Linked DNA regions of Homo sapiens: region 1 is linked to region 2. Evidence: fine-mapped expression QTL. A gene starts in region 2. The other region holds a variant in brackets. All regions are shown on one strand. Distances are from middle to middle. Region 1 holds the start of KLHL33 (kelch like family member 33). Region 2 holds the start of RNASE4 (ribonuclease A family member 4).

The links.
Region 1: its variant is fine-mapped to the expression of RNASE4 in uterus (GTEx, PIP 0.94).

The regions. Positions count from the first base shown.
Region 1 is chr14:20,420,079-20,437,066 of GRCh38, forward strand. KLHL33 (kelch like family member 33) reads right to left here and starts at 16,088. Exons shown (of 5, transcript NM_001365790.2): 1 at 16,021-16,088; 2 at 14,986-15,752; 3 at 9,717-10,641; 4 at 9,424-9,591; 5 at 5,774-9,323. The coding sequence starts at 15,733. The coding sequence ends at 8,771. RefSeq lists enhancers at 8,916-9,548, 15,635-16,544. The variant T/G (reference allele first, on the strand shown) is at 8,393.
Region 2 is chr14:20,679,745-20,689,973 of GRCh38, forward strand. It overlaps RNASE4 (ribonuclease A family member 4), which reads left to right and starts at 4,816. Exons shown (of 2, transcript NM_002937.5): 1 at 4,816-5,014. It overlaps ANG (angiogenin), which reads left to right and starts at 9,020. Exons shown (of 2, transcript NM_001097577.3): 1 at 9,020-9,130. It overlaps TRT-TGT5-1 (tRNA-Thr (anticodon TGT) 5-1), which reads left to right and starts at 1,946; the gene lies at 1,946-2,018. TRY-GTA5-5 (tRNA-Tyr (anticodon GTA) 5-5) reads left to right here and starts at 3,529; the gene lies at 3,529-3,617. It also overlaps TRP-TGG3-2. RefSeq lists enhancers at 2,428-2,477, 3,198-3,507, 3,708-3,897, 4,038-4,167, 4,968-5,107 and 1 more and silencers at 4,298-4,347, 4,618-4,737.

The sequences.
Region 1 (16,988 bases), 260 kb before region 2:
AAGTAAACTTTGGATCTCAAAATAGTGAACTTGGTGCCGGGCACAGTGGCTCACACCTGTAATGCCAGCACTTTGGAAGGCAGAGGCAGGCAGATCACCTGAGGTCAGGAGTTCAAGACCAGCCTGGCCAACATGGTAAAACCTCGTCTGTACTAAAAATACAAAATTAGCCGGGTGTGGGGGCGTGCACCTGTAATCCCAGCTACTTGGGAGGCTGAGACTGGAGAATTGCTTGAACCTGGGAGGTGGAGGTTGCAGTGAGCCAAGATCACGCCACTGCACTCCAGCCTAGGCAACAAGAGTGAAACTCCGTGTCAAAAAAAAAATGAAAAAGAAAAAAAAGGCCGGGCATGGTGGCTCATGCCTGTAATCCCAACACTTTGGGAGGCCGAGGTGGGCGGATCCCAAGGTCAAGAGATCAAGACCATCCTGGCCAACATGGTGAAACACCATCTCTACTAAAAATACAAAAACTAGCTGGGCATGGTGGCATGCGCCTGTAGTCCCAGCTACTCGAGAGGCTGAGACAGGAGAATTGCTTGAACCTGGGAACGCGGAGGTTGCAGTGAGCTGAGATTGTGCCACTGCACTCCAGCCTGGTGACAGAGAGAGATTCCGTCCCAAAAAAAAAAAAAAATAGTGAACTTGGAACATTTTAATGACTTGTAGGAAGAATTTAAAAAATAGGGGAATTCAGATAATCAGGGAAGAACTGGAGTACTTGGCTGCAATCCAAGATATGGGTGAAGATAGTATATTACATATATATATATATATATATATATATATATATATATTTTTTTTTTTTTTTTTTTTTTTTTTTTTTTGAGATGGAATTTTGCTTTTGTTGCCCAGGCTGGAGTGCAGTGGCATAATCTCGGCTCACTGCAACCTCTGCCTCCTGGTTTCAAGCAATTCTCCTGCCTCAGCCTCCCAAGTAGCTGGGATTACAGGCACCTGCCACCACCGCTGGCTAATTTTTTGTCTTTTTAGTAGAGACAAGGTTTCACCATGTTGTCCTGGCTGGCCTTGAACTCCTGACCTCAGGTGATCCGCCTACCTCTGCCTCCCAAAGTGCTGGGATTACAGGAGTGAGCCACCACACCCAGCCAGATAATATATTATATATTAAATATGGTTGTTTAAACATGAACTCTGGAGTCCAACAGATCTGGGTTTATTTTTTATTTTTTTATTTTTATTTTTTGAGACAAAGGTCTTGAAACATGTGCCACCACACCTGGTCCAATGGATCTGTGTTTAAATCCTCCTCTGCTACTGACTAGCAGTGTGACCTAAGCTGTAGAAGAAAATAAGGTTAATAATCTCAACCCTCAAAGGGGCCAGAGAGTGGTCCTTGAGTCTGCAGTAAGATCACATGATGCTGATTTGGCAAAGGGGTCAGGCTAGGTTCTCCGTTTGAAAAGTCTCACCTCCTGTCTCATTTTCATAACAATCCCCAGCTCAATACATCCTAATAAGTGAAAAAAACTGCTGGAAGGAAGAACCCACTGCCCCTTTCTCTGGCTGAGCGTCTTTTAAATTCACAGCTATTTGCATTACAGCAATTGGATGTTAATTTTTCAAGACCATGTCTCCAAACCTCCAGTGGCACTTATACTCGCTCATTGCTCCCACTTGTAGAGCCCATGTATGAGTTTCATGGATAAAGCTTGCCACTCAAGTGGAGATGGAGCTACATTAGAGAGGGGGCATAATAAAGTCCTTCTACCAGTTTAAATACATGCTCAACATTTACAAACTCCTCTAATCTTCCAGTTTTCTCATCTATAAAGTGGGAATAATAATAGCACCCGCTTTTTATGGACTGTATTGTCATTCAAATTAGATAATATACATAAAGCACTTAGCATACCACCTGGCATATAGCTAGCACAAACAATGATAACTATAATCTAAAACAAGCAGTTCTAGGCTGGGCACAGTGGCTCACACCTGTAATCCCAGCACTTTGGGAGGCTGAGGCAGGTGGATCACCTGAGGTCGGGAGTTCAAGACTAGCTTGGACAAGATGGTAAAATCCCATCTCTACTAAAAATACAAAAATTAGCCAGGCATAGTGGCAGACTGCTGTAATCCCAGCTACTCTGGAGGCTGAGGCAGGAGAATCACTTGAATCTGGGAGGCGGAGGTTGCAGTGACCCAAGATCGCACCACTGCACTCCAGCCTGGGCGACAGAGTGAGACTCTGTCTCAAAAAAATAAAAAATAAAACAAGCAGTTCTTACTCTGCAATGAAAGAGTTGGCTTTCATCAGTGACAGCTTGCTTGAAAAGTGTGTATTGGGGCTCAGATTGCCTACCTGGCAATTAGTCAAACTGATATATAGGCCGGGCGCGGTGGCTCACTCTTGTAATCCCAGCACTTTGGGAGGCTGAGGCGGGCAGATCACTTGAGGTCAGGAGTTCAAGACCAGCCTGGCCAACATGGTGAAACCCTGTCTCTACTAAAAATACAAAAATTAGCCGGGCATGTGCCTATAATCCCAGCTACTCGGGAGGCTGAGGTAGGAGAATCACTTGAACCCAGAAAGTGGAGTTTGCAGTGAGCGGAGACTGCGCCACTGCTCTCCAGCCTGGGAGACAGAGCAAGACTCTGTCTCAAACAAAACAAAACAAAACACCAACTAACTGATACATAGCTCTCTAACTATATGCCTTGGCCTCATTTGGAATCCAGATGAATCTGCTTCCCTGTCTCAGGAGTACATCAGGCTGGAGTAGCTTATAACCTTCTGTACGGTACTCGTGGTCTCAGGAGCCTGTCACTACGGTATACTGGCCTCCTTGTTTGGCATCATTTAGCTCTCTGATCTAAAAGGATATGTCCTAGGAACTTGATTTATAGATTACCAAGGCACACTTTTCCAAATGTGCCTAGAGGTCCTTAGGACTGTCCCAAGCTCTGGGGTTCATGAGCTATAATAACACTGTGGTGTTTACAATACCATTATGGTGCTTATTTTATGGGGTACGAACTTGGAATTCAAACTGGTTAAAGGACTTACTCATAATTACCAAAGCAACAATTGAATTGAAACTTGAAGCCAAGTTACTGAATCTAGCTCAGTACACTTTCAAGGCTATACGTTTTTTTTGTCATTCTTCTAATACTGTATTTGTCTGTTCTCACATTACTATAAAGAAATACCCTAGACTGGGTAATTTATAAAGAAAAGAGGTTTAATTGTCTCATGGTTCTGCAGGCTATACAGGAAGCATGGCAGCATCTGCTTCTGGGGAGGCCTCAGGAAGTTTTCAATTATGGAAGAAGGCAAAGGAGGCGTGAAACGTCTTACATGGCAGGAGCAGGAGCAAGAAAGAGAGTGAGGCAGAAGGTGCTACACACTTGTAAACAACAAGTTCTCACGAAAACTCACTACCAGAAGAACACCACCAAGGGAATGGGGCTAAACCCACCATGGAAACCACTCCCATGACCCATCACCTCCCACCAGGCCCCACCTCTGACACTGGGGATTACAATTTGACATGAGATATGCACAGGGACACAGATCCAAAACATATCAAACACGAAATATAGATTATTAAATTCTGAATCAGCTACAGTAATAATACCATGATCATTTCTCTCTCAGAGAAAACAGACTATAATCTCACCACTAATGATATATATGTATGTATGTATATACACATAAATATCTATCTATCTATAATTTTTTTGGTAGGTGTTTTACCAGGAGCTGTGATGAATTCACACGTTTTCACTTAGGGCTCCTTGATCTCAAGGGCTAGACAGGATTTAGGATATAGTCTATGATCCTGAAAGAGTAATTATGACTGTCCTGTCTATAGACCTCGTCTGTGATGTTTGTCTTAGCCTGCCTGTTGGTCCTAATGTATGTGAGAGACTAGTTTCATGAAAAGCCTTCCTCTTCATTATCCAGACTGTGTACCACATAACTTTATTTCCTAAGCTGTGTAACAAAAGGTTTGAATTACATGATCTCTGAAACCTCTCCATTCTATAATTCTATTAAATAATCTTTCTATGCAATTTTTCTTTTATTCCTTTTTTTTTCAAGATGGGGTCTCACTATGTTATCCAGGCTGGACTCGAACTCCTGAGCTAAAGCAATCCTCCCACCTCAGCCTTCTGAGGAGCTGGAACTATGGGCATGTAGCACGGTGCCTGGCACTTTTTCATTCTTTTGATTGAACATTGTTGCTTCTACAACCCAGAGTGTCTGTCTGGGTAAGTAATAATTCTTGGTTTCACAGCTAGTGAAATTTTCATATAAATTTGCTCTTCTATTTTTTTAAACCTTCCTTGCTATCAATTTTCCATATATTATTATTATTAATTTGAGACAGAGTCTCACTCTGTCACCCAGGCTGGAGTGCAGTGGTGCAATCTCAGCTCACTGCAACCTCCGTCTCCCGGGTTCAAACAATTCTCGTGCCTCAGCCTCCCATGTAGCTGGGATTACAGGTATGTGTCACCACACCTGGCTAAAAATTTTCCGTATATATTATATTTAACACAGAAAAGATTGGGAGAAGACACTAAGTCAGTTTTTCTTTGGGTAGTCCAGTATTACATGATGAGTCAAGTAAAGAAGAAAAGATAAAGGAAAATAAGCTCAAGAGGATTCCAAAGCTTCAGGCCCAGGAAATAGGAGAAATGATAGTGCCAATAAAGCATGAGGAATCTGAACTAATGATGCTGGCACATCTAAATGGAGGTGAGAATCACTGAAAAAAATCAGACTAGAACCCAGGCGAACCATCAAGGTTGGAGACAGAGGAGAGGTGAGCTTCCTGACAGGGAGCATAAAACAAAGGAAAGGAAGAACGTGAGCAACCCAGCCAGGACTAGGCACAGGAGACAAGTGATACCTAGAGTCCCACACACTTACTTGTACTAAACATTAACCTGCATGTCCAGTCCTACCCAGTACCTGAGTCAACCTTGGAAAGATAAGAGAGATATCAGAAATTTCACCCTCACCAGCAAAGGGGGTGGAGGGAAGACTGTTGGGGGAGCTATTAGAGAGCATCTAGAACACCTTGGCTTATCATCTGATTCACCAAAGGTAAGAATCCCAGGCCTCTACAGTCATCAAACTAGTCTTGCCAGGTCACCACCACGGCTGCCCAATCTGTATGCATAGTTTCTATCCCAATTCCTACTTCTCACTCCACTTCCCTTCTGGGGTTGAAATGTTACCCTGATATTACCCTATTCTTAGTCTGCCTGGCTGAAGACCCAGACTGTTACCTTGCCTATATTCAGTCCCTTCTCACTGATGAATGGACTATTGACTAGGGTCCTCCTTCAAGTCAGAGGTCTCCTCTCTCCTCACTCTTCCCTCAGTTTTAAAGACAAATAATGAAAGTCAGAACTTTCTGCAATGAACCACCCTCATCCACATACCTGTGGATCCTTGGCTATCAGCTCCAAGGATGAAGCCACACCCCCCTGGACACTTTGATCTGGCTTACTGGATTTTGGATTGGAGAAATAAGAGAAGGTCCATCCAGGAGAGTGTGCTATCTCTAAAGCCAGAAGAAGAGAAATTTTTAGGGTAAGAGCCAGTTTTCACGCCAATCAGTTCCTGTAGAAAGATGAAAGAGAATGAAGATGGCCACAGATTGTTAGATTTGGTAAGAAGCAGGTCACAGTAACAGTGGAGGGAGATGATTTCAATCATGTGGTAGACCTAGAAGGCAGAATACAGGGAATTTTATTTTGAATGCTTTTTATAGTAGAGAAACTCAGATAAGAAAGATTCAGTCACTATGAAACCTTTATTTAAGTCTGCCTTTAGGTACAAATCACAAAAAATGTTCATAGAAGTTCATCCAGAGAGCTTGTCATCTCCTTCAATTTCCTTCTTCCCGTTCTTTATTCTTCCTTCTCTTTTCTCTTATACATCCTACTTACCCCTTCTCATTTTCAATTACATTCCTAGTCTATCTTAAATAGAGATACAGAAAAAGATCTTACTAAAATAACGAAATCTAAAAATAAATAAATAAAATACATGCCAAGTACTTCTGGGGCCAGAATGAAGAAGGGTGCAAGGGAGACTCCATCATCACCCTTAGAAACATGAAAATCTTAATAAACAATGGTAATAGAAAACTGACCTACACAGGCCGGGCATTGTGGCTCACGCCTGTAATCCCAGCACTTTCGGAGGTCGAGGTGGGTGGATCACCTGAGGTCGGGAGTTCAAGACCAGCCTGACCAACATGGAGAAACCCCGTCTCTACTAAAAATACAAAATTAGCCAGATGTAATAGCTGTAATCCCAGCAACTCAGGGAGGCTGAGGCAGGAGAATCACTTGAACTCAGGAGGAAGAGTTTGCGGTGAGCTGAGATCACGCCATTGCACTCCAGCCTGGGCAACAGAGTAAAACTCTGTCTCAAAAAAAAAAAAAAAAAAAAGAAAAAGAAAATTGACAACAGGTGCTGGAGAGGATGTGGAGAAATAGGAACACTTTTACACTGTTGGTGGGACTGTAAACTAGTTCAACCATTGTGGAAGTCAGTGTGGCGATTCCTCAGGGACCTAGAACTAGAAATACCATTTGACCCAGCCATCCCATTACTGGGTATATGCCCAAAGGAATATAAATCATGCCGCTATAAAGACACATGCACACATATGTTTATTGCATCACTATTCACAATAGCAAAGACTTGGAACCAACCCAAATGTCCAACAATGATAGACCGGATTAAGAAAATGTGGCACATATACACCATGGAATACTATGCAGCCATAAAAAATGATGAGTTCATGTCCTTTGTAGGGACATGGATGAGATTGGAAATCATCATTCTCAGTAAACTATCGCAAGGACAAAAAAACCAAACACCGCATGTTCTCACTCATAGGTGGGAATTGAACAATGAGAACACGTGGACACAGGAAGGGGAACATCACACTCTGGAGAATGTTGTGGGGTGGGGGGAGGGGGGAAGGATAGCATTAGGAGATATACCTAATGCTAAATGACGAGTTAATGGGTGCAGCACACCAGCATGGCACATGTATACATATGTAACTAACCTGCACATTGGGCACATGTACCCTAAAACTTAAAGTATAATAATAATAAAATAAAATAAATTAAAAAAAAAAAAAGAAAAAGAAAATTGACCTAAACACACACAAAAAAACTGACCCTTTTTTGCTCTCAGCTGTCCAGTAGGCAGAAATGGAAAGAGCAGACAGGAAGGATAGAGGTGAGTCATAGAGGGCGGGAATACACAATCATTAAGTGAAAGCCATTATCCTCAGGAAGGCTCCAGAGAAGAGAGTAGGTGGCAAGAGCAGCAGAATTATCTGAAAAGCCTCTGGAATACCCACTTCCTCTTTGCTATGGAGAAACAGGGCATGGCATGCCCCACTTCTTTCTGTTTCAAATGCATTCCCCCTTCTCTAATGGGTGAGACTCTAGGCAGCCTTTAAGATCCAGTTCAAAATACACCCATCGGATGACACCTTTCCTAACAGAAGCCTTCCTGAGCAGAGTTCACTGCTCTATCCTCTGGGCTCTCGCAAGACTCGTCCATACATGTAAGTCCACTCAAAATTTGTATTTGTTTATGTCTATCTGCTGGTCAGGAGCTCTCTGACCTCTGTATCTTGGTGCCTCCTACAGTGCCTGCCACACAGTAGGTAATTAATAACTGTGTGAGGGAGAAAGAAGAGAAAGAAAAAAGAGAGGCAGTGGGGAGAGCAGGATGGGGGAAGAGAGAAAGAGGAAGCACCTGACTACCTTCCCTGGCCAAGATAAAGGGAAATGGATTTAAAAATAACTCTGGGGGAAAGGAACTGAAAGGGGGAAATGACTTTTCTGAGTCTTGTCTGCTTCTCACTCTTCTCTCCCCCCACATCCTCTCACCACTTGAGACCTCAGGCAACAACGGTCTCATTTTCACTCCTGATTCCTCAGTTTGCCCAAAAGAAAGAAGGCACACAGGCTTCTGACTTCTTCCACCCCATCTCCTTAAACCTCAGATCATCTGTTTTTCCACTGTGGGCCTCTCCCTCCTTGGCCTCTGCCCCCATCATCTTTCCCACACAACACTCCTGCCACATGGCCCTGGGGGGCCCGTCAGGCCTCTCAGGCCCCTGTGCCGTGCATGTCCATGTGGGAGCTTCTGCCTCAGAAGGAAACCAAGAGGTTCTCAGGGGCAGCCTGTGGTGTCTCGCTGGGAAACGCTAGACCAGGCCTACAAAGTTACCCGGGAGAGAATATTGTTAAGAAGGTTTAGGCATCCCAGGGGTGGGAGAGGAGAAAGGAGCAAGTTCCAGGAAAAAAAGGGCTGAACGATTTACAGTCCTTACTCCTACACTCCTCAAACTCTTTCATGGATGGCCATTCCACATTT[T/G]TCCCATGATCCATGGGTCAGAACCATTTTTCCAACTGTCCTCCCATGGTCTCTACACTTTGGCTACTGAAGCTTCTTAACTCTCTTTCAAACTAGATGCCCTTTCCCTAAGAATCCCTAAGCCTTGTGGAGTTGCTCCCGAGTCTCCTTTCCTCACCTGGGTATTCAGCTGCCTCCCCTTTCCCTATATGTTTTCCCTAGGAGTTCTGGAACCACCATTTCCTCAACGGAGATCATACGTACAAAAGCAGTTTACAATGCACAGTGTGAGAATAAAATACTACCAAGAATAAAGCCTCTTTTCACTCCCCACAATCTCTGTCCTTCTCTCAGGCTATTTCTTATGCCCTCCTCTCCCCATACACTGTTGCTCCCTCTTCACCCAGCAGGTTTGGTTTGGTGTGGGGTGGGAACCAAAGCTATGTGCTGCACAGCGGGCAGTGTCAGGATGCAGGCAGGCATCTCAGCCCGAGGCCTTGGCAGAGTTCCCAGGCAGAGCCATCGGCCCAGGCCAGGACAGTAGGCATGGATAAGGTGAGAGAGGGCATAAGTACGGTGACTGTAGCCCCCGAGCACCAGTAGCTCCCCCTGCAGCACAGCACTTGCAGCCCCCACATGGGGGGAGGGTAGGGGTGCCAGGTGAGTCCAGCTATCAGTCCTTAGTTCATAGGCCTCAAAGCTTAGCAGGTCCTCAGTCTCACCCAGCCCACCTGCCACATACAACCTCCCACCCAATGCAGCCATGACATGGCCAGCCCGAGGTACCCCCATAGGGCTCAGAAACGTCCCTGGCTTCTCAAGTTTGGGGTCATAGTGCATCAGTGAGGCCAGGTATTGGCCAGTCCCACCACAGCCACCGCTCACGTACAACTGGCCCTCCAAAATCGCAGCTGCGTGGGCAAAACATGGTGCTGGAAGTGCAGGTGCTGGCCTAAGGGAGAACAGGACACAAGATAAGGCAACTAGCATCTTCAACTCTCCTTCTATTCCAAGTCTCCTAATCTCTCCCAGATGCCCCCTTGCCTGCTTACCTCCAGACATTGAGCTCAGGGTTGTAGGTCTCCACAGAGTCCAGGGCAACATCATTGTGTCTTCCACCCAGGGCATAAAGTTTTCCATCCAGTGCCACCAAGGAGAAAAGGCTTCGAGCCTGGGACAAAGGAGCCATCTCCTCCCAGTCCTCTTGACTGGGCTCCCACCTGGACACAGTAGGACAAGAGATTGGAAGAGGGACTCTGGGCATCCGTGGTTGGCTAGGCCAGCAATTTCTCTCCCTGCCCACCTTAGGGCCTGCCACACCCTGCCCACTCCTAGAAGCTTATACCTGAGAGTTGAAGCCAGGGTGTTGGAGTGACTGTAGAAATCTTGTCCCCCACACACATAGAGTTCACTTCCTGCCAGGCTTGCAGCCCCATGCCGGAAGCGTCCGGGGGCAGGCAGGGCAGGCAGCTGCCCCCACTCAACAGTTCGTACCAGTCCCACGCCACAGCGGAAGGCCCGGGCCCACCACACTGCTCGGGATGGTTGTCTTAGGGCCATGTCTGGTCTGAGCCCATCCCCGCCAATCACTACCAGTGCCCGGTCAGGCTCCCTCCGTCTCTCTTGGCCTGGAACATCAGCCTCTACCATCAGCTGGTGCAACAGATCTGGGGTCAGGGGTGGAAGTAGCCCGGCTGCCCGCACCCTCCGCAACTCCCTGGTGGACATGCGGCCAAAGCGGACACATCGCAGCAGGGCCTTGGCCTCTGACTCCTGGGTCTCGGGGTTGGCAGCCAGCCAACACCGTGCAGCCACAAAGGCCTCAAACTCCTCCTGCACATGGAGCTCATCACTATCCAGGAGCTCAGCCAAGCAGGCAGCTGGTAAAGAAGGGAAAGCAGGACACAAGGCTACAGCAGGCAGGTGGGTGAGGAGGTAGTGACGGGCTTTGCTCCAGAGCCTCTCCAACCCAGGGGCTTCCGCCATGGGGAACAGGGCCAGGCAACGGGCAGGGCTGAGGCCCCGTGCCAAGCCTTTCTGACACAAATCCAAGCAGGAAGAGCTCTGGTACTGCAGAGCAGCCTGGGCAGCTCTCAGTAGCCCTGGCCACCTTGCCCGCACAACTCCGGAGTAAGCAAAAGAGACGAGGAGTCGCAGGTCCTGGGTGGAGATCGTCCGCAGAGATACCTCTGTGCCCTGGGATTCCCTCATCCCGCTCAGGAGCATGGCCCCAAAGAACTCACTGCCACAGGCCAGGGCGGCTCGGTGCACTGCAGGAGGGGAGAAGGAATAGAGGAGGACTCAAAGTATTGCAAGACCGATAGGCATTACCCCAACTTGGTACTCTAAGTTTGGCCAAACTCTAAGTTTGGCCCTCCAAGCCACCCACTGCTACAGACCAAACTGTGGTGTGCATCAGAATACCATGGGGTAGTTGTTAAAATGCAGGTTTCAGCAGTCCACTCCCAGAGATTCTGATTCAGCAGTTCTGGACGGAGACCCTAGAAATTTGTATTGTAACACTTCAAGTAACCCTATGTGATTCTCATGTTAGTGGCCTGAAGACACTTAGATAAACATTGCTTTAGTCTTTTTGGTCAGATGAGTCAGAAAAAGAGTCTTCATGGATCAGGTTGAGAGGAAAGCATTTGCTAAGAGGAGCACAAAATAAATGGGAAATGACCAACAAGCAACTTATATAGGTCTGTCTATATCGTGACAAAATAAAATTCTTTACAATCAAGAGCCAAGACTGTCAGCCATTCTGTTAGATTTTGCTGGGAAAGTGGCACCACTCGGGAATGGCTGTAATCCAACCTCATCGGATTGCTGTCTCCTCTTGCCTAAGATTTAGTGTTTAATGTTTTCCGTGCGTCCCAGCTTTTCTCTGCATAACCCTCTCCTGTTCTTGGTGTAATTTGTAGAATCATGAGATCTGAAACTTGAGAACTTCAAAATAATCTAATTCAATTATTCCCTTTAAAATAAGGAAACTGGTTGGGTGTCGTGGCACACACCTGTAATCCCAGCACTTTGGGAGGCTGAGGTGGGTAGGATCACTTGAGGTCAGGAGTTCAAGGCCAGCCTGGCCAACATGGTGAAACTCCATCTCTACCAAAAATACAAACATTAGCCGGGCATGGTGGCAGGCGCCTGTAATCCCAGCTACTTGGAGACTGAGGCAGGAGAATAGCTTGAACCTGGGAGGCGAGGGTTGCAATGAGCTGAGACTGCGCCGCTGCACCCAGCCTGGGTGACAGAGCGAGACTCCATCTCAAAATAAATAAATAAATAAAATGTGGAAACTGAGTTGGGTCCCAAAGAAAGCATGTGATTTATTTTTCATTTCCATGCAGTGGCTGTGTGGGCAGATCATCTCCATCCACTGCCACTGATGTCAGGCTGCAATAAGCATGCTTGTGTACCAATACCTTGGTTATCTGCATGGTCCTCATGACAATGAAACTGTCCTATTAACCTACGCTGTTAAACAATTAGACCTCATACTCAGCATCACTTATGGATTATTCTGGCCAAAATATTTAACTTGAATCTGTTCAACTCTTTAGATCTAAAGTCAAGTTTATAGGAAGTTGAAAGGCTAAAGGAACAATTTAGAGGGGAAAAACCACACAAATCAAGAAAATGGAGCATTTTATAGGATAACCAATTTTTTTTTTTTTGAGATAGGGTCTTACTCTGTCACCCTGCCTGGAGTGCAGTGGTACAATCTCGGCTCACTGCAACCTCCACCCTCCAGCTTCATGTGATTCTCGTGCCTCAGCTTCCAGATTAGCTGGGACTACAGGTGCACGCTACCATGCCTGGCTAATTTTTGTATTTTTAGTAGAGACGGTTTCGCCATGTTGGACAGGCTAACCTTGAACTCCTGGCCTCAAGTGATCTGCCTGCCTCGGCCTCCCAAAGTGTTGGGATTACAGGCGTGAGCCACTATGCCTGGCCCAGGGTAACCAATCTTACATGTTATTGTCTTTACCAATCAATATATAAAGTAATAAAAAAAAAAAAGGAGGAAGGACTGTACTAGATTAAAGGAAGCTTAAGAGACATGCAACTGAGAATAGCATAGTCCTTGATTAATTCCTGGGTTGAACAAACTCACTTTAAAAAATGTTTTTTGGACAACTGGGAAAATATAAATGTGGACTAGGTGATATTAAAAAATTACTGGCCAGGCGCGGTGGCTCATGCCTGTAAACCCAGCATTTTGGGAGGCTAAGGCAGGTGGATCACCTGAGGTCAGGAGTTCAAGACCAGACCAGCCAACATGGTGAAACCCCATCTCTACAAAAAATACAAAAATTAGCTGGGTGTGGTGGTGCACGCCTGTAATCCCAGTTACTCGGGAGGCTGAGGCAGGAGAATCACTTGAACCTGGGAGGTGAAGGCTGCAGTGAGCCGAGATCGTGCCATTGTACTCCAGCCTGGGTGACAGAACAAGATTCCATCTCAAAAAAAAGAAAGAAAGAAAGAAAGAAAGAAAGAAAGAAAGAAAGAAAGAAAGAAAGAAAGAAAGAGAGAAATTACTATTAATTTTGTCGTGCATGATAAAGGTATTATGGTTATGAGAAAATGTCCTCTTTGTTTTATTTTTTCCTTTCACACCTAGTCCCACAGAATTGTCTTCTTTTAAAAAGATACATACCCAAATACTTATGAGTAAAATGTCATGAATTTCCTTTAAACTTCAGTAAAAAATAAAATGAACAGATGAAATAAATATAGTAAAATATTAGTTGTTAAATCTGGGTGATGGGTGTTGTTTGAATGTTCATCTTAATATTCTTGGTTTTGTAAAATGCTTCATAATAAAAAGGTGGGGGGTAATGCTCCTAGAAGTCCTTTTAGGCAGGTCACAGAGGGCCAAGCTGTTTAAGAACTCCATGCTGCTTTGACCAACTGAGGCATGCGTGCCTTTCCCAAAGGGCAGGTGTTGTTCATATGACTTTCCACTGTCTTTTAAGCAGTAGGTAGTGGCCTGGTGCTTCCCAAGTAGTAAACATCAATGACAGATTTCAAATATATATTGTCTGAGAAAATCTGCATTCCTCAAAACAAGCTAAGCCATCTCAGCTCCCATATCATCAATCAACCTATAGTTCAGAGCCAACCCTGAAAGGGCTCACAGCCACTTGTATTCACCTCTTACTCATTACTATACCCTAGGATTTTAAGTGACAGATTCGCAACCATTAAGTAGGAATATTTCCTAGGGAAATAAAAGCAGTGATATGAGTATGCTTAAATTCAAAAGCCTAGTGAGAATTTTATGATTATGAAAAATTTAAATCCCCTCTCCATCTAGTGCTATCATAAATGAAAATAGACTTTTGGAGTGGTTTTCCTTCTAGGAGTCCCAGAAGCACTTCAGTTCCCAGTCACTCCTCTAATGGGCAGTAGCTATGTGACTTTGGACAAGTCTTGGATTCTGATTTCGTCATCATCAAAGTGTAACAGCCCAACTAGATAATCTCTAAACTAATCCCTTGTAATTTTAAACTTTCAATGTGTCCACATGGCCTAGTGGAAGGAGACTGGACTAGTGATGTAGGCTTGTATCCTGGGGTTGTCCCAAGTCAACATCTCCAAATTTAATGTTCCTTATGTGCACCTGTAGATAATGATATTGACCTCACCAGCTTTCAGTAAAATTTAAAAAGAGATGTCATGTGTAAAAATTTCAGGTACCCAGTGCCTCACTAAATGTTAGTAGACTCCGAATAATACTCAACTTATGCAACCCTACTTAGCTTTCCTGGTGATGAGCAGAGTTAACTTCAAAGTGCCATGGCCAGGCCGGGTGCAGTGACTCATGCCTGTAATCCCAGCATGAGACAGGTGGATCACCTGAGGTTAAGAGTTCAAGACAAGCCTGGCCAACCTGGTGAAACCCCATCTCTACTAAAAAAATACCAAAAAAATTAGCCAGGCATGGTGGCAGGTGCCTGTAATCCCAGCTACTCGGGAGGCTGAGGCAGGACAATCACTTGAACCCAGGAGGTGCAGGTTGCAGTGAGCCAAGATTGTGCCACTGCACTCCAGCCTGGGCAACAGAGTGAGATGCTGTCTCAGAAAAAAAAAAAAAAAGTGCCACGGCCTGGTAACCTTAAACAGTACCAGACCTTGCTCATTAGCTGCAGGGCCCATAAGTCAGCCATGGCGTCAAGCACACCAAGGTGAAAGCACACATTGAGTTTTCCACCATGTTCCCCTGGCTTTCCTGTGTCCTGAATGGAGGATGCCAAGAAGGGCCTTTTGTTAATTTCTGCTTGAGTCAATCCACTTTCTGCTTGTTCTACTGCCATGGATTGTACCCTTAGCTCTAGCCAGCTGGCTGGAGATTCCTTGTTACTGGACACAGGAAAAGCCAGACAGAGGGTCAGTTTAAATCTGTCAGAGCGCCTAGAAAACAACTCGACTGCGCATGCCCGGCTCTCCGTGGGGCAGGAGAGGCACCAAAGGCCACCCCAGGGAAATTCTGACAGCAGCAGGGATCAAAACCATCATGGTGGGGATAAAACCACCTGCTGCTTGCACACACCATTCCGTTAGCATATGCACCTGCAGTAATTTAATGCCCCACAGGCCCTCACCCGACAGCTGGCAGCCGCCTGCCTCCAGCTTCAAGTCACACCCGACGCCCTCTCGGTAGAGGAGCTCGATTCCGCGCAGGTTCTCCCTCAGCTCCTCTGCCTGGCTGGGCTTCTTTACATCTTCCCTGGCATTTCCAGCCCTCTCGCATGTCTGCTGGGCAGCAGCCTTCACCCGGGGCGCTCCCAGCGCCTCTGCTGCGGCCAGCACATCCCCCTGCGAGGCGGGGCCCAGCACCCCCTCATAGGCAAAGGTCAGCACGGCCTCCCAGCCCCCTGGGGACACCTCGAGGCTGAAGGGGGGCCGCGGACCTCCGCCGCCCAGCAGCCTGTCTCGGAAGAGGCTGCTGATTGCGGCCAGGATCACCCGATGCACCCCGTATACCCGCCCCGCGACTGACACCTCTTCGTCCAGCAACAGTCTCTGCTCCCGCAGCCGCTGGGCCTCGGCGAAAAACTGGCTCGGATGCTCCTCGCTGCGCAGCCACTCGGGCTCTGCCGCATCTTCATCTTCTTCCTCTTCCTCTTCTTCCTCTAGGGACAAGGCTGGAAAGGGAAGGTTCCTTGGGACCAGGGGCCTGGAACCAGGCTCCTCCAGAGGAAAGGAAGGCAATCTGGGATCCTCGTCGGGGGAGGGAGGCCAGGAAGGGGTTCTCTGGGCGTGCACAAGGAGTCCAAGGCAGTCCCTCTGGACGGGATGAGAGACACTCTCCAGCTCAGGGGGATAATGTGGGGTGTCCGAGACGCTCATGCCGAGGTTTGCTGGATAGCTGCAGGTGAGCAGAGGCAAGACAGCCTGGCGTCAGAGCTGGGCCCAAAGAGGCCAGAGCAACCATGTCTCCAGCCAGTTGAAATGTCAGTCTCTCCCCTGCTCCAACACCCTCCTCCTACCCTCAGCCACATCCCAGCACTGGAGTATCTGGGATATACAGGACAGCTATAGGGTGCACGCGGTGCAGTGAAACATGCAAGAAGCCCTGTAAAGATCCGGTAACCGGGACCACACCCCTCCCCTATTGCCCCCATCCTTTTAGTCACCCTCAGGAGACACCAGCGTTCCGCTTGCCCTCTCACTTAAGCGCCCGCTGTGCTTGGGGCTGCGTGGCAGAGGGAACTTGCCCACATGGCATCCCAGTCAGCCAGTGGCCCCATGGGGCTAATTATAGCCAGTCCTGGCTGGCTAGGCACTTGGCACCTGGTGTCCTAACTCTGACACCCAATCCCCTGGGCTCCCTCCCAGACTGACATCCCCACCCTTCCACCTGTAGGTCATACAGGAGTGTGCTGAGCTAGGCAAATTAGGAAACCAAGGAGAATGAGGGGATCTGGTGGAATGAGCCCAAGGCCAGAAGGGCTGGGCCACTAGAGTGGGCTGGAAGGATCAGGCAAAGAGTCTGGACCAGGCTTTGGCTGTTGACTTTTCTGTGCATGATAAAGCTGGGACCCCGCCGGGCATGGTGGTTCTTGCCTGTAATCCTAGCACTTTGGGAGGCCAAGGTGGGTGAGTCACTGGAGCCCAGGAATTTGAGACCAGCCTGGGTAATATGATGAAACTCCATATTTTTTATATCTACCAAAAATTACAAAAATTAGCTGGACGTGGTGTCTCATGCCTGTAGTCATAGCACTGTGGGAGGCCAAGGCGGATGGATCACTTGAGGCCAGCAGTTTGAGACCAAACTGGGCAACATGGTGAAACCCCATCTCTACAAAAAAATACAAAAATGAGCCAGGCATGGTGGGGCACATCTTTAGTCCCAGCTTCTTAGGAGGCTGAGGTGGGAGGATCACTTGAGCCCAGGAGGCAGAGGTTGCAGTGAGCTGAGGTCGCACCACACACTCCAGCTTGGGTGACAGAGCAAAACCCTGTCTCAAAAAACAAAAAAGCTGGGACCCAGGAGCGAATATAGCCCAGCTTTATTCATGGAGGGCAGAAGAGTGGGGAAAGTGAAGGGCCAGGGGGCAGGGCTACGGACCTAGGTGGCTCACCCCACACAGGGATTACT
Region 2 (10,229 bases):
AGGAGCTAAGGGTGTGGACCCACAGAAGGACAGCTATGTGAGGCGGCAGCAAGAGGCCAGCCATCTCTAAGTGAAGGAGAGAGGCCTCAGAAGGAACCAAACCTGCCAACACCTTGGTCTTGGATTTTTGACCTCCAGGACTGTGAGAAAATGAATTTCAGTTGTTTAAGTCACCCAGTCTGTGGTATTTTATTATGGAAGCCCTAGCAAACTAACACAATGACTGAGAGTTTTCCAGAACTAAAGAAAGACAGCAGTATATGGATTTAAGAAAACCCATACCCAAAAACTTGACACTGATACCATATTTGGAAAAACATGGGTTTTCCTTATGGTATCCTGTACTCCTGTTTTATGTTTCTAAATGGAAAGCTTCCTGGGCGATGCATCTGATTGGTGGAGCCCAGGTCACATGCCCATTCTCAGCTGTAAGCTGGGAAAGCAAGTGTTCTAGGACAGACTTACTTATAATATGTGAAATATCCACATGTAAGGAGAATTTTTAAAAGATGTTGGACACACACTAACATAACATATGCCTATAACAGGGCTATTCAAAACTTATGTTCTAGTCTCAGCTGTTTTCTCTGTATTCTTTTCCTTCAAGAGTGCATAACTCGTAGAGTCTCTAACTCAATGGATGACTTATGTAATTTGATTAATTCATTTATCAATTCATGAAACTCTAGACACGAGACTATTCTGGCTATCATGCAATTCCCATGAACTGCTCCACCTTCACTTCATATTCAGCTTACCTAAATCCTAGCGTCACCCCTCCGCCCTCTCCAGATACGCTGAAGAAGTAGGCTTCCTTTTTTCTGCAGGTGTTATCTTGCCTCTTCAAGACACCTTTGAGAGTCCCCTCTCTTTCCTCTTGATTTCACTTCATACCTAGGTTCAGCAGAATCGCCCTGCCCTGTAACGCTCTCACTCATCCCTTCCTTTCCAGTCCCATAACGATTACCTTTTTGCAGCTTTATGTTTGAGCATCTTCACCATGGCCAGTCACTGGTGTTTCTGACTCTGGTTGCTCGTCCCTTCAATTAATTCCGCAAACTCATCAATGTTTGGTGAATTTCTATTTTCTTCTACTAATCTTCTCACCTGCTGCCCCAGCCAGTGTTCCCTTGAATGTCTCAGTCTTTCTCTCGGACTTTGCTCGTAATTTTATTCTACCAGGGACCACCCTGCTCCCATTTTTGTCTAAGTCTTAACCTCCCTTCATAGTGCAGCTCAGGCCAATGCCCTCTTGAAGACACCCCCGGATGGTTCACTTTGTAAATGTGTGGACCTTGGCATGGCCAACGCCCCTTCACACCTGGCACAGCTACTTTTCATTGTTTTCCTTCATGAAAACTAAAGTTCTTTTGTTCCACAAAACTGTGACAGTGACTTCAGGATAAAGATCATATCTGGATCCCTAATTCTTAGTGCAGAGCCTAGTACAGAACTGGAATGCAGTGTTTGTTGAATGAAGGAATGAATTAAACTGCAAATTAACGAATGCCTGCTCTGGCACTGAGACTCGCAGCTGTGAGAAAGGTCTCTGGAGGCAGACAGTTGCTGGTACGAAGTCCTGAGTCAAGCAGGAAACAAAATGCGGATGTCAGCAGTTTCAAGTGAGACCTGTGGTGAGCTCCTTCCTCTGCCGGTTTTCCCTTCTTAATTTTCAGTCTGAAGTGAGGGAGTGGAGAATCTTTCTGTGTTAGACTGTGTCGCGTTGGGCAGATTTCTCCAATCTTAGGATAGTAGTGGTCCCTCTCACTGGCCTTCACTTTGTACCATCCCCAGCAAGAACACTGAGTCTGTGAACCGAATTCTAGTAGTCGGGAAATGGATTGAAAGGACATCCAGGTTTTACTTAGTTTCTATGCTCAGATGCTGGCAGAAGCCCTGCAAATCTTTTCCTTTTCTGTGAAAGGAAGAGGCGGTTTCTGCGTGAGGCCCTATAGCTCAGGGGTTAGAGCACTGGTCTTGTAAACCAGGGGTCGCGAGTTCAAATCTCGCTGGGGCCTTGCGAAACTACTTTCTTGATTCAGGTGTTTTTTGAAAAACTCCCCTTCTAGTCTTTCTGAACTAAGTCACAGAAAATGTGGCAAATTAGAGCTTCTTTCCTCTGTTCAGAGCTTCCAAACACTAGCTCAGCAGAACGTTTCCTTTAGGTTCCAGTAGTAATGCTGCTTTAGCTCCTGGAATGCGGCGGAATCCATTACACAGGCGGTGGAAATCACCGTCAGCCTCTGCCCACGCCCTGGCTTGCGGACTGGCGGCGAGAGCCCTGCTGACTGCCGGGCGGGAAATGGGGACAGCTAGGCGAGACAATAGCCCTTTAAGCTATTCTCAAGCCCCGGGTCTGGGCATATTTGGAGTAGAGATCAAGGTTCCACTTCTGAAACGGGAAGAGCCAGCAATGGCCGCTCCGGCCAGGCGTCCAGAAGAGAGATGCACGTTGTGAGGCAAGGTTTCATGTGCCAGTGGGGTTTTGGGAAATTAAGGGCCCGACTTTAGGGGCGAGACTTGGGTCACTAAATTTGATTTTAACGCAGAGAAATGTGGCCTTCCTTTTGAATGAGCTGCAAATATTATCTCCAAAAGCGAATTCACACAGAAACATTGGGTTTGCCCAGATGTCCTCTATTTCAGGGGTTCCCAACCCTTGGGCCGCGCACCTGTCCATGGCCTGTTAGGGACCCGGCTGTACAGCAGGAGGTGAACTCCGGGCTAGCTACCAGTACCGCCTGAGCTCCGCCTCCTGTGAGATCAGTGGTGGCATTAGAATCTCACAGGAGCGCGAACCCTATTGGGAACTGCGCATGCCAGGGATCTAAACTGCACTCCTTATGAGAATCTAAGTGATGCCTGATGATCTGAGGTGGAACAGTTTCATCCCGAAACCATCCCCCAACTCTTCCCCCCGCCCCCGCGGTCCGTGGAAAAACTGTCTTCCACGAAACCGGTCCCTAGTGCCAAAAATGTTGGGGACCACTGCTCCATTCCACACCCTCTCCCTCCCGTGTCTGTGGACGTGTAAGCGGAAGAGCCGAGATTGGGAGGGAAGCGCAGGAAGTGAGGACATCAGGGAGCCCGGGCCTAAGCCTGGAGGCCCGCCCTCTCCGGCGTTCACAGTTGCGCAGTCAGAATTGTGTGCGTCCCACCGCCTCAGCCCCCAGTTCTCCGACGCCCAGGTGCCGGTCCCCACCCTACACACAAACACACGCATCCACGCTCGCGAGGCCCCTGGGTCCGCGCCCAGTGAGGCCAACAGCCCTCGGGCGCCCAGAGGATGAGCAGCCTCGGTATGCCCGAGTTTCAGGGGCGCCTGCTCTGCTTGGGAGCCCCTCAGTGAGGCAGGGGAATCCAGATTTAGAAAGGTTGTCCTCAGAACCTCGGACGCAGGACTGTCTTACAAGCTGGCTTTGTGACTCTGCAGTAATTACTTTCCGGGTATAAAGAGATTTCTTTCTTTCCCGTCTCTGGTTAAGGATGTCTCGAGTAGGGATTTTTAGGAGAGTTGTTTCCGTGCTTCCTTCGATAGCTCAGCTGGTAGAGCGGAGGACTGTAGTACTTAATGTGTGGTCATCCTTAGGTCGCTGGTTCGATTCCGGCTCGAAGGAGACGCTGCTGTTTTGGGGTTTACGGTTGCTCTTCGTTTGTGCAAAAAATCTCTGTATCTTGACGTGATCAAATCTGTTTCTGTCTCTCACCCTTGTCCGAAGGAAACAGCTTAGCCGCGAGGTGGGCTGCGTTAATCGCGTCTTGAAAAGTTGGTTACCTTTCTGAAAGATAGTAGACCCGAATCGTCCCACCGTTGGGGGAAGGCACTGTTGTCTTACCGAAGTGTGTTATATTTTGGCTTCTACGTTAAGTCCAAAGGCCGGCAGATATATACGTATCGCGCGTCTGTCCTGGGGCTCAGTACCCTACAGCCTTGCAACCGAGCTCAGCTCTGGCCCTCGATCTCTATTTCAGCCCCCTCCAGGTTCCCTCCAGGCCCTAGCGGGCTTAAATCGCTCCCCGGGCTCAGTGAGACACAAGCATGTGACCTAAAGTCTAAAAAGCTGCCTTCCTTCACCCCATCCTGCATCTGGATCGAGGAGAATAAGCCAGAGAATAAGCCACACTTGAAACTTGGTGAAGATGGAAGGAATAACTAAATAAGGCCTAAGGGAAATGTCACAACAGAGGAAAAGAAACAAAACAAAAAACCTTCAGAACAGCAGGCGGAAAAGAGAAATTCAGAGTGATAGGAAGCACCACTCAGCTACAGTGGCTCGTTGGTCTAGGGGTATGATTCTCGCTTTGGGTGCGAGAGGTCCCGGGTTCAAATCCCGGACGAGCCCTCGTGGCTACTGTTTTTCCACCCCCTTTTGTCAACTACTGAAAAAAAGTCTCCGTTAAATTTGAAACACAAACTGTCTCGCGATGGGCTGTCCTGCCAAAGAAAGCAGCAGCGAATAAGTACGTGGCAGATGGTGCTGTCGACCAGTGTCAAGACCAAGTTTCATGGGTTCCTGGACGCTCAGCCAGGGGTAGTCTCTGAAGGGCCGCCTGGCAATTGGGAGCAGAAGCCAGTTTCCCGCCATCTGCTCTCCGTGGAGGCAGTGCTCTCGCGGCTGCTGCCCGTTGGGGTCCAGCTGAGGAAGGAGCGCGGATCCCAGGCTCGTTCTTTGCCTGGGCTGCCCCTGCGGCCCCTGGGGCGGGTGCTGCTGCGGCGCCAGCTCCAAGGGCGGATCCAGGCGGGAGGGGCCTCCTCGGAGAAGCGGGGCGCGGTCCCAACTACGCAGAGGCTGGCACGCCGACCCTCCACACCTCACCACGCCCCCATCTCCGTCCGTGTACACACACTCACACAAGGACGCCAACCCCACCTAGATGCAAAGCAGGATTCAAAAGAACATCTTTGCGTTTTCTACCGGCTCCCCATCATCGTACTAGGGAGGAAGAAGCGGGTGAGAAACAAAACTTCTTTCCATTGTCCTGCCCGTTTCTGCGGACTTGTTCTGAGGCCGAGGTAGGTTCACACTCCTGCTCCTCCTCCTCCTCTCTGGTAGCTTCATAAGGGGCGTTTAGGCCGGGGAGTCCTTTCCTAGTAGAGGCAGCTTGGGACTCCTTGGGGAGGAGTTTGCGGGACGGGGCTGGAGAGGGAGGAATGGGGAGGGACGTGAAAGTCCCGTATTTGTATGAGTTAACGACTTTACATTCCCACTCAGGTTTACTTTGCGCAGCTGGGCACAGATGCCAGCTTCTATTGATTAGTAGGCTTGGAGGGGGACCACAGAATCGCCGAACCTAAGGGAAGCCCTAGGAGGCCTGCACTTGCCCACAACTAAGAAAGCTTTGCTAGTTATTCAGGCTAATCACCAGCTTTTTGAAGCAGGCCTTAGTTTTTTGCAAGCGTAACTAACATTTGGGGATCGGTGTTTTCTGTTTACTCTCCTCTGCCTCCTCACCCTTAACCCACCCTCAGCCAGTGTTGTGCAATTCTTAGAGACACTTGCCAACAGCCTCTTCTCTAAGCCTTCCTACTGGAAGGTTGGGATCCTCCGTTTTCTCGCTCTGAGACAGCACGTCAAATGCTAATAGCAGCACATGAGTAAAGCGCAACATCTTTATTAAAACAATTTCAGCACCACTCAGGGGGCTAGGGAAATCTCAGATGAGCCAAGACCCTCCCTCGTGACAGTAAAAATCTTATAATCAAGTCATAATGTAATCAGTAGAAACCCAAGGGACATCATTATCTGTGGCACAGGACCACCTTCCCAGAAGCAGCCTCAGGTATTCAAGACTTACTTAACCACAGAGCCACTAACAAGTTTTGCAAGAGGATAGGTTTATTACATACGCTTCAATTCAAGCAATTCTTTTACTGATGACAAGCAGAGTAAAATAATTTTTGAATTTATGGTAATAGTCAATGTAGGTTTCCTTCGAACAGCAACTTTCAGTGGCCCCTTTAAAGTTAGCTCTGATTGTCTAGAAAGTACTAGTATGGAATATAAAAGTTGTGTGGGCCCGGCACGGTGGCTCATGCCTGTAATCCCAGCACTTTGGGAGGCCGAGGTGGGTGCATCACAAGATCAGGAGTTCGAGACCAGCCTGGCCAAGATGGTGAAACCTCGTCTCTACTAAAAATACAAAAATTAGCCGGGCACGGTGGTGAGCACCTGTAACCCCAGCTACTCGGGAGGCTGAGACAGGAGACTCTCTTGAACCTGGGAGGCGGAGGTTACAGTGAACAGAGATTGCGTCACTGCACTCTAGCCTGGGTGACAGAGCAAGACTCCGTCTTAAAAAAAAAAAAAAAAAAAATTGTGTGGTGCATTGGAAAGCTTCCAGGCCGGCGAATGCAATGAGTTCCTTGGGCAATACATGTCTCTTTCTCTGTTCCTCAGTTGGCTCTTCTTTAATATGAGGGGTGGACAGAGTCTCAGAGGCCCCTCCCACTCTTGTTCTATGACTCCATGGAGTGGTACGATGTTAGTAACAGGACATGAGGCACTCTAGTAATGTGGAGATGAACTATCGTTTGGCAGAGAGGATGGAAAAAATCATTCCAGGAAAAGAGGAATGGCTTTAGCTATTGTTGAAAACAGATAATCAGGTTATAAGCAGGCAAGAGTAAGAGGTTTGTCAAGTTATTGTTGGAAGCATTGGTCACTGTGACTCAAATTAAAGTAGCTGGATAAAAAAGTGGACCAATGAAGGTCAGTGAAACCTTTCTTTAGGAGTTTTTATTGAATCTGTATTTAAGCAGATTCTCTGTAATTCTCTGTAAACAGTTATTCCCGGAAGAATGCCATGAAATACTTGGGAAAGAGGGAATGGGAACAAAGAGTGAGTGGGCACAAAGCCCAGAGTTGGTTGAAAAGCAAATGTTTAATTTTTGTCTTTGTTTGGAAATACAGGCATGTCAGCAGGACTTTGTCCCCACTGTCCTTCAATCAGTAGTGTTGCCTCTTCCTGGAGACGTGGTTCTTCTTGCCACGTGTGCTTTTCCTTCTTTACCTGTTACTTCCGTTATTGAATAAGTTCATGCTTATAGACCTAAAGTGTTAGAATAATAAAGAAATATAGAAATTATTTAGTCCATTCTTCCCATCATCTAATTTTATAATTAGTCCTAAGACAGAATGATACATATATACTCTGTATGAAGGAGGAAAGTGCTCTAACACTAGGGTCCTTGGAAACAGGACCCGTGCATCCCGTGTCTGTGTGCAGGGACATTATTGGCTTGAGGGAGAGAGAGAAAAAAATCTCCAGGAAAGGGGAATGACTTTCAAGTTAAAGCTGTCTGAACATTTAAAAAATATATGAGGTTTTTTGCAATTGGCGATTCCTTCATTTGTATTAAAATTACTGACAAAGATGTGATGTTCCTTAATCATAGAATATAATTCCTTGTTGTATTTTAAACACAAATGACTAAGTGCTTAGATGCATTCTAATGAAATAGTAATTTTTCCCCCAAACCCTACTTTTCATTTCAACAAAACTTCCTTGTGCCAAGTTTAAAAGAAAAACATAAAACTGTCTTTTTGCATTGTGGGCAGATTGTGTATCCTCCAAAGGTTGTCCAGTGAAGGCCCAGAGGCAGAGAAGGGACCTAACTATATTCAGAGGCTGCTGGTTGCCCCACCTCAGCACTACTGCAGAACTCTAAAATCAGAGGCTGCTCTGTTTGTGTGAGTCGGTGCTTGAATTGGTGCTTCAGGCCATGGGGCTGTGTGTGTGCAGGCGCATATGGGTTGTATGCTGTGGCAGGGTACCGCTTTTCGGGACTCAGAGGTGGTGTTGCTTGAGCTAAGCCTGGAAAGACAGGTCAGTTTTCTCCTTGCTTATGAAGGGTTCAAAGTCTGACTCCACCATTCATCTGCTGTTTGTTCTTGGAGTTTCCTCATGAGCAGAGCATATTTACATAATGCCTACCTCACACAGTCCTGGTGTTGGTTGAATGTAGTCATGTATGTGAGAGCTTCACAAAATGAAAGATTGCACTGAATATTATAATTATTGTGATTTCAAGTGCATTTGTTTTACTAGCAGGCAGCCTGTCTTTTCTTGACACCTTCTCAAGTGCAGCCAGACTGAATACTTGGCAGCTAGGTGGGTGACAACAGAGGATTGAGGATTTTTAAAAAGATAACACTGTCCTAGATCCAACACCACTGTGGGCAAATGCTGGGGGTCTGTGAAACAGTTGGTACCCTGCTGCTGTCTGATATTGGAAACTATGAGATCTATAAGGTGATCCTGGTGACCTTTGGCCCACTGTTTTTACGCAAGCAATGGATCTACAGCCCTGCTTTGATGATGGAGATAAGCAATTTTGCAACTACATTACAAGGATCAGAAGATTGAATGTTCAGGGTTAGTCTCTTGTGGACAGGTAAAGATGGAAGAAGGAGAAACCCAGGAAACATGGCAAGCCTGCTTCTGGGGGTTAGAAGCTGAGAAGTTGAGTGTAGGGGGAGGGGCAGTGTACTAATAGCTGTCACACAACCTTCTCTGGAAGTGCTTTCCTGGCTGTATGAAATCGATGGAATAACGTGCTTAGCATCCGTTCATGAAACCAAATGATGTGATACGATAAATAGGATGTGATATGATAAATGATAAATAGTACAGTGGAAAAGCATCCTACTGGAAGACCATATCTTACTCTGTGACATCTTCCAAGGCAGTTCTTGGAGTTGGCCCAGGGAGATCAGAGATGCTATCTTATGGATCCAGACTATTATGTGTGAATAGGGAAACCTCAGTCCTGCCATGAACAAGAGTAAGCACCACAGACAGCAGAAAAGGGCAACTTTTGGACAGAAGGCCATGTTTCTCAAACTTTGTCTTCCAGAACAAATCTCTAATCCATTCAGGTGGGTTAATATCTAACCCAATCATGCCCAGCGAAAAGGTGAATGACCCTCCTCGTTTGTTCAAGAGCAGTGTCCTTGGTTTTCATGTCCCTGCCAGGACTGGGACACTATATATTAGGAACACTATATAATCAGAACCTGGAGAGGCCTCCAGGTTCACACAACTGGAACCCATCTCCAGGAACAAACAGCTGGAACCCATCTCCCGTTGAAGGGAAACTGCCAGATTTTTGTAAGATTCTTCCTCCTGGGTAAACTATTGTTCAATTTGTTTTATATATTATTTCTAGCCATCCATCCATTTTAATGAAACCATTTTCCTCCCTTTAAAGCCTCCAGGCTCAAGCTCATGAATTAAAAAGAAAATGGATCAGATTCTAAAGTTTAAAATGAAAACAGGTTTCTTTTGGGATGGCCTATGTGTGGATAAAGAGAAATTAGTGAGACTGGGAGGAAGTGGAAGTTTAGGAGGGATTTCTAAATTGTGATAAAATCCCCAAAGGCCTGGGGGAGCCATTTGCTGAAGGCCATCGGGAGTCCTCCCCCGTCGTCCACCCCTGTTACAGGCATTACACGTGGCTTAACAAGGAAAGAAACAGTATGTTTTTAGCATTGTTTCCTTCTAACCTTCCCTGCTAATTTCTCTTCTTAGAAAAGTTTTGGATGCTCTTTCAAACAAAGTGGAACACATCCCAAGATCAAAAGAAGGCTCACTGGCAGGTTGAAGGGAAGAAGGAAGGAAAAGCAATAAAGGGATGAATATGCCTTGGGTGTTAGGCTCTTACTTTGGGGGATTTTGCCCTAGGATGTATAAAAGTGTGAAGCCACATTGATGAAAATGATAACTATAGTTACTCATCATAAACTGTCAAGTTAACTCCCTGGTGTGTAAAATTTGATGAATCTTTTGAATACTGAACATTGCCTGTGGGGAGAGGGAGAGAATAATTCTTGTGAATACTAACAGATTCATTTGATACAGAAGATAAAGTTACTCTAAAGAACAGTTGGGGCCAGGTGTGGTGGCTCACACCTGTAATCCCCGCACTTTGGGAAGCCGAGGTAGCCGGATCAACTGAGGTCAGGAGTTCGAGACCAGCCTGGCCGACATGGCGAAACCCCGTCTCTACCAAATACACAAAATTAGCCAAGCGTGGTGGTGGCCGCCTGTAATCCCAGCTACTTGGGAGGCTGAGGCAGGAGAATTGCCTGAACCTGGGAGGTGGAGGTTGCAGTGAGCCAAGATAGCACCACTGCGATCTAGCCTGGGCGATAGAACAAGACTCTGTCTCAAAAAAAAAAAAAAAACAGGCCGGGCGCGGTGGCTCACGCCTGTAATCCCAGCACTTT